Homo sapiens: one gene and its partner. The protein of the gene in region 1 interacts with the protein of each later gene in a pairwise test. Each region holds a gene or a part of one and is shown in the gene's direction. Other genes may lie near its edges.

Region 1 (3,500 bases):
TACTCATTTCAAAAACACCTACACATTTTTTCTTCTAATCCTATATTCTTTATTTTATCTGAGTTTAAAACTTAGAATTTAAACTGTAGATTTAAAAGTAGCAAGGTGAGATTGATCAGTATATTTAACTATGTGCTGAGGTTGATAAGTATATTTAACTATGTGCTGAGGATGCCGTGGGAATGGATTTAAATTTGCTGTGGGCTGTTTACTTTTTCTTTATTCAATGAGCCTTACCATATAAGGGGCAAACTGTGGCCACTGAACAAAGAAAAAGTAACCAGCCCACAGCAAATTTAAATCCATTCCCACGGCATCCTGAGCACAGTATTGTGTTTTCACATAAATGCCCAAGACTTAGTTCGTAATGATCTTTCGCTAAAATGTGTATCCTTGATCCAGGTGGAGCTGAGAGAATATACATGAATTAAATTTAATTAATTAATTATTATTGAGGTAGGGTCTCTCTGTCACCCAGGCTGGAGTACAGTGGTGTGATCTTGGCTCACTGCCACTTCTGCCTCCCAGGCTCAAACAATTCTCCCACCTCATCCTCCCTAGTAGCTAGGATTTCAGGCACCCACCACACACCATGCCCAGCTAATTTTTGTATTTTTAGTAGAGACACGGTTTCGCCTTGTTGCCCAGGCTGGTCTTGAACACCTAGGCTGACGTGATCTGCCGGCCTCGGCCTCCCAAAGTGCTGGAGTTATAGGTGTAAGCCACTGTGCCTGGCTGTATATATGAATTAATCAAAATAGGTACTTCAGCATTGATGAGCAGAATGCCCAAAGATTTTTCTATATTGAAGCCCACATTATTTATTAGGCTTCTTACTAAAGCCCATGAAAGACATTGAGCCATAGGTTTTCTATACACTAAAAACCTACTTTCTGGAAAGTCAGATGTTACCAGTTTCTTCCCACTGCTATTACTTTGGCTCCTCCCTTTGACCAGGTGATACTGTTAAAAGCCTAGTTATTTCATTGCTAGTCATGCAAATGGTAATTAGTGTACATTAGAGCAATAATGCATTCCCAGGTTCAGTGTAAAGAGCATGGTGTTTCCATGCTCTGGTTCTCTCTCCTTGTCACAGATAATAAATCACAAGCCATGTTTAAAATACATTCTCTGCAGTCTTTGATACTGTGTAGTGCAAGCAACAGATTCATAGTTTCTTTTTAAGAATCTGAACTTTTACAGAATATGTATATCTCCATATACTTTTAAAAACATATTAACATAATATGTGGCTGGGCATGGTGGCTCATGCTTGTAATCCTAGCACTTTGGGCGGCCAAGGCAGGAGGATTGCTTGAGTCCAGCAGTTTGAGACCAGCCTGGGCAACATAGTGAGACTCTGACTCTAAAAAAAAAAAAAAAAATTACAAAAATTTTTAAAAAGCATAATATGTAAGAATATATATATATTAAAAATCAGAATACCAATAGGAAATATCCCTGATCCATATATTTGTAGTTGTAATCTTGCCATGAATTATATCAGTTGAGTCTGTTTCTTGGTCTCTTTATCTCATGAATGAAAGTAATAATACCAGCTTACTGTTTTCTCTAAGATTAAATTTCAAGAAATATTTTTGTGTAGAGATAAATAAAATTCAGTTATTGATCTAGGGTGTTGATAGTCTGTTAGGGAAGACAGATCTGTAAGTGGATAATTATACTACGGTGTGGAAGTTCAAAAGCAGACATATCAAAATCCGGAAGTTAACTGTGGAAAGCAGTGATTATTTGATTGGCAAAGGAAAAAGGGGTAAGTCAGGGAAGGATGACTAGACTCATGCCAAGTGGATAAGGTTAGGGAAAAGACATTTCAGGAAGAATGACTAGTACATATATGCAGAGTTATAGAGACATGAAATGGTGCGATGCGCTCTGAGTGCTAGAAGGAAGTCTGTATTGTTTGTATAAAATGCCATAGGCACTGGCCAGAGATGTTGCAGGAAAGTGTAGTTGGGGCCAGATCAAGAGGGACCTGAGTTCTTGGACTTTGCCTGGTAGGTAGGGGAAGGAGTTAAAGCAAATGAATCACAACTGTGTGTTTTAGGAAGATCACTCTGGCAGCATGAATCTGGAGCGGGTGAGTACAGACAGGAAGACTAGGTAGAGATTAGTGCTTTGCTTTCAGGTGAAAAAAAAATGAGGTCAGTGAATTATTAAATAAAAAGGAATGGCAGAGGAGAAAGAGAGGACAGGATTGAGCTGAACTGTTCAGGAGCTGGAATGGTTAGGACTTGGATTGTCCAGAGAGTTTTCTCTTTGTGACTTAAAATATATGGCTTTTCCCAGTTTTCCTGGGTTAGTTTTTAATTTTTTAAACTTGCGGTTTCAAATGAGTCATTCTACCCCTTAGACTGTCCAGAGAGGGAGGGGGCTCTTTGCATATTTATTTTTCCTAAAGCTCAGCCTAATGCTATGTTCTTTTTAGGTCAGATGGGCAGACCTGGAAGAGAAGAAGGATGCAGATAGGAAAAGGGCCATAGGTTTTGTGGTCGGACAGACTGATTGGGAGAAGATCACAGATGAAAGTGGTCACCTGGCTGAAAAAGCCCTCAATCGAACCAAATATATATGAGACTTAGTTTTTGAACGGAGTCATTATTCCTCTAAGGTAAGAGTACACAGTCATATAAATAGCCTACTGTGTGGTTGCTTCAAAGGGTTTGAGATAAAGAAGACAGCATATTTTGCTAAAAATGCTCTCTTCTTGTGTTATTTTATAGTTCTGAAAGAGTAAGTATGTACTAGTTGTTAACATTTACAATACTATTAGAAAAGGAAGCCATTTTCTGCAAGCTGGCTCACTTATAAAAATAAAAACCTTGAGAAAAACTTGAATTCTATAGATTTGGGAAGGACTGAAATGATGTTATACTAAGGGCTACTGAACTTTTTGCCTGTTCTTTCCAGGTGTGACAGCCTTTTCTTTTCTTTCCAGGTGGTTCGCTTTGAGGTGGTCTGAAGCCAAGGCCTCGCGGAGCTTCTTTGTGTGTCACCTTGCTTCCACGTTTCAGTTCTTGTTTTGTTTCTACTGCTTTAGTTTTTTTTAAAGTTCTCCAGTGTCCCCAAGAGGTATTAGAATCTTGCTGTACCCAAGCAAGACGTTAATTTTTCTTTTAACTGTTTTGGGGAGGGAGGGAGTGATAGCTTAACTGCTGAAGCCAGGCGGGGGTCTGCTGGAGGATTCCAACAGAGAGTATTTCCTCCACTGTACAATGTCACAGACTATCTCTATCATCATTGCTTTGTGGCTGTTTCTGTTTTTTACTGTATGTAACTGGTAGCTGATTGTACTAGGATTAAAAACAATAAACTTTCATGATAAAGCCGATGAGATTCATGGGCTATACAGCATGGGCCCTTTTCTCTTGTTTTCTTAATTTTATTTTTAATTGCTTTTTAAATATGGTATGTCCTAATTAAATGCTAGCTGAACATCCCAAAACCTTTTTTTCATTGAATATTATATGGCTCAATGA
Region 2 (3,500 bases), on another chromosome or scaffold:
GTGATGAAAACCCGTCTCTACTAGAAATACAAAAAATTAGCCAGGCGTGGTGGGACGCACCTGTAATCCCAGCTACTCAGGAGGTTGAGGCAGGAGAATTGCTTGAACCTGGAAGGCGGAGGTTGCAGTGAGCCGAGATCATGCCATTGCACTCCAGCCTGGGCAACAGAGCAAGACTCCGTTTCAAAAAATAAAAAATAATAAAAATGATACCTACCTTGCAGGGTACTAAGCTTTATAGACATGGCTCTGAGCCATTAGCACCATGCTTGGCAAGTGACTCTTCCCACCCTGGTTAGGTTGACAACCCAGGTTTAAACAGATGAGCTGCTCACAAGCAGAAACAGAACCGAAGCCCTCAACAGTGAACCAGTGGACAGTCGAGGGCTTCCAACCCTGTGACCTCAGGCTTCCCAAATACACAGTTCCTGAGTCATGGAACTAGCTAGAGGGGACCTTATACTGATATTGTCTAAACTGCATTCTGTCTCTGTACTCCCCTGTGTAAAAAGATGGTTTGATAAAGAACAGAATCCACAAGATAGCCAGGACAGGGGTGAAGCTCCTGGAGAAGATGGCCTGTTTACCTTTCCATCTGCTGATTCACCTTAGAAGCATGTGTGGTTTCTTACTCAGGTGATAGGTTAATTACAGATCTGTAAGCATTTCCTGATTCCTATGGAGGACCCAGCACTATGCAAAGATCTGTAGGGGATTCAAGACAGGAACCCCTCTGTTCCCACGGAGATTGCAGCCTAGCTGGGGAGAGACATGGGCGTGCAAGGAACACAGGGGGCGTGGAAGGCCAGAGCGCAAAGAGGGAGGGCAGGGGGCTGTGTGAACCCACCGATGGGTAATGGTGACAGCTCACGGTTCAAGTGTGGGTAGACGGGAGCTTCACCTGCCTCTACCAGGGACTTGAGAGGGCCCTGTTTTCCGGGCCCTCGTGCTGTATCTTGCCCATCCTTCTCCCCACCAGTCATAGTGCCTGGCCGCCTGTTTCCCCCAGTGAAAGCTGTCCAATAATGTCATCATGAATAATGATCATCAGCTTGTAAATCTGAGTCGGGGCAGGGCGTGGTGGCTCATGCCTGTAATCCCAGCACTTTGGGAAGCTGATGGGGGCAGATTGCCTGAGCTCAGGAGCTCAAGACCAGCCTGGGCAACATGGCAACACCCGTCTCCACTAAAAATACAAAAAATTAGCCAGGCGTGGTGGCGCAAGCCTATAGTCCCAACTGCTTGGGAGGCTGAGGCACAAGAATCGCTTGAACCTGGGAGGCAGAGGTTGCAGTGAGCCAGGATCGCGCCACTTCACTCCAGCCTGGGCAACAGAGCAAGACCCTGTCCCCCCCCACCCCGCCCGCCCCCGCAAAAAGAAATTGAGTTGGGGAAGCCATGCTTTTCAGAGGCAGAAGTCAGATTGCCGTGGATTGAGGAGACCTGCCGTGAGAGTGTGGCCATAGCGAGTGTTCTCGAAGGCTAGCTGGAAACAAAAGGAGAGCGATGGGCTGTAGCTGGAGGGGCCTGGGAGAGCTCTTTCAGGATGTGTGAAGGTTCCGAGGCTGCAGAGCTGAGTGAGAGCGTGAGGCTGGATCATTTGTGGTGTGAGGGTTCCCACGCGTGGGCAGCAATGAGCTGCACCTCCCAGAAGGGCAGTCCATCCTGACGGGGAGGAGGGACACTTGCTCTGAGGCTTCAGGGCAGCAGGGTAGCAGGGTAGGTGGGTTTGCAGGTCGGAGTCCAGAGGTTGAAGCCATTCATGGTGGAAGGCCCTGGCTTTGTCAGGAGGTAGGAGAGAGGTGGTCTGCCACTGGGAGCTGACACAGTGGCTTGAGGAGGGGGCTGGATGTTTGCAGCAGTTACTAAGGAGGTGAGAGATGGAGCTGGTAAAGGCCAATCCAAAGAGTATCAAGTGGTCTGGGGGCCCAGGTGAGGCTGGAGCCACAGGTGGAGTTTTCTAAGATAGTGCTGTGCAGAGCCGGGGATGCAGGGCCACGCAGGGTGCAGAGGAGCAGGCTGGGTGGTCAGCCCTGCAGTCAGTTAAGTCAATCGAGGAGGAAATAGTGGGAGAGAATAGAAAGATCAAGACCCTGGAGGTCTCTCTAAAATTAAGAGGCCAGCCAGGCACAGTGGCTCATGCCTGTGACCCTAGCACTTTGGGAAGCTGAGGCAGGAGGATCGCTTGAATCCAGGAGTTTGACATCAGCCTGGGCAACATAGTGAGACCCCATCTCTACAACAAGCAAAAATGAAAAAAATTACCCAGGTGGCATGCCTGTAGTCCCAGCTACTTGGGAGGCTGAGGCGGGAGGATCAATTGAGCCTAGGAGCTCAAGGCTATGGTGAGCTATGATCGCACTACTGTACTCCAGCCTGGGTAGCAAAGTGAGGACCCATTTTTGTTTTTGTTTTTTAATTTTAATAAAGCCAAATGACCATGATCAGGAAGGTGAGGTCCTGAGCACCCCGAAGGAACAGGAGGTGGCCACAGAGGGGTGATGTGTTTGTGATGTGAAGAAACAGTGGATGATGACAAAGCCCTCAAGGAACCGAGAGGCCGTCTTGGGTGGACCGTTATATGTCTGTTGACTTCACCTGGGAGGGTAGCAGGAGTGGGGGTGGGGAGAACTGAGTCAGGTGTCAAAGTCCCCTGTGACTGTCCAGGCTGCTGGAGATCAGTGGATGACAGCTTCAAGGAGGGGCACAGGTCAGCCGGGTGCAGTGGCTCACGCCTGTAATCCCAGCACTTTGGAAGGCCTAGGCAGGTGGATCACTTGGGGCCAGGAGTTCGAGACCAGCCTGGCCAACATGGTGAAACTCTGTCTCTACTAAAAATACAAAAATTAGCCAGGCATAGTGGCTCACGCCTGTAATCCCAGCACTTTGGGAGGCCAAGGTGGGTAGATCTCCTGAGGTCGGGAGTTTGAGACTAGCCTGGCCAACATGGCGAAACCCCGTCTCTACTAAAAATACAAAAATTAGCCAGAGATGGTGGCGCACGTCTGTAATCCAAGATACTGAGGAGGCTAAGGCAGGAGAATCACTTAAACCTGGGAGGTGGAGGTTGCAGTGAGCCGAGATCACACCACTGCACTCCAGCCTGGGCAACAGAGCGAGACTCCATCTCAAAAAAAAAAAAAAGAAAGAAAGAAAAGAAAAATGGAGAGGCACAGGTGATATGACCCCTGTGGCCCAACACCTACAAAGGTCTGGGGGTTGTCCAGGGAGCCTGCGATGGCTGCTTCATGAGTGCTGCCATGTGAGGCCTCACTCAAGGCTTTTGTAGGAATCGGGCAGCTAGATTTTCCCCAGACGCAGTAACCTCATGAAAAAGAAACGATGCCTGCCTGCCATCCAGTTCATAAGTGGGACAAGAGATGGAAGAAAGGAGGGGGGGCAGGAGGGAAGGGCCTTCCCCACAGGAGGCATCGGAGCTTGGGGTCCCTCTCTATCCCCTTCCGTCACTCGCTTCCCTGCAGCCGGCTGTGACCACAAGG

The links. Proteins that work in one complex are often made in the same cells at the same time.
Region 2: the proteins of YLPM1 (region 1) and BMP1 interact in a two-hybrid assay, tested with the Homo sapiens proteins (one large-scale study listed by IntAct).

Annotation. Positions count from the first base shown.
Region 1 is NC_000014.9:74,832,816-74,836,315, forward strand, and holds part of YLPM1 (YLP motif-containing protein 1), read left to right. Parts: intron 1-2,449; coding exon 2,450-2,596; 3' UTR 2,597-2,632; intron 2,633-2,959; 3' UTR 2,960-3,500. UniProt on the Homo sapiens protein: Plays a role in the reduction of telomerase activity during differentiation of embryonic stem cells by binding to the core promoter of TERT and controlling its down-regulation.
Region 2 is NC_000008.11:22,203,372-22,206,871, forward strand, and holds part of BMP1 (bone morphogenetic protein 1 isoform 3 precursor), read left to right. Parts: intron 1-3,482; coding exon 3,483-3,500. UniProt on the Homo sapiens protein: Metalloprotease that plays key roles in regulating the formation of the extracellular matrix (ECM) via processing of various precursor proteins into mature functional enzymes or structural proteins.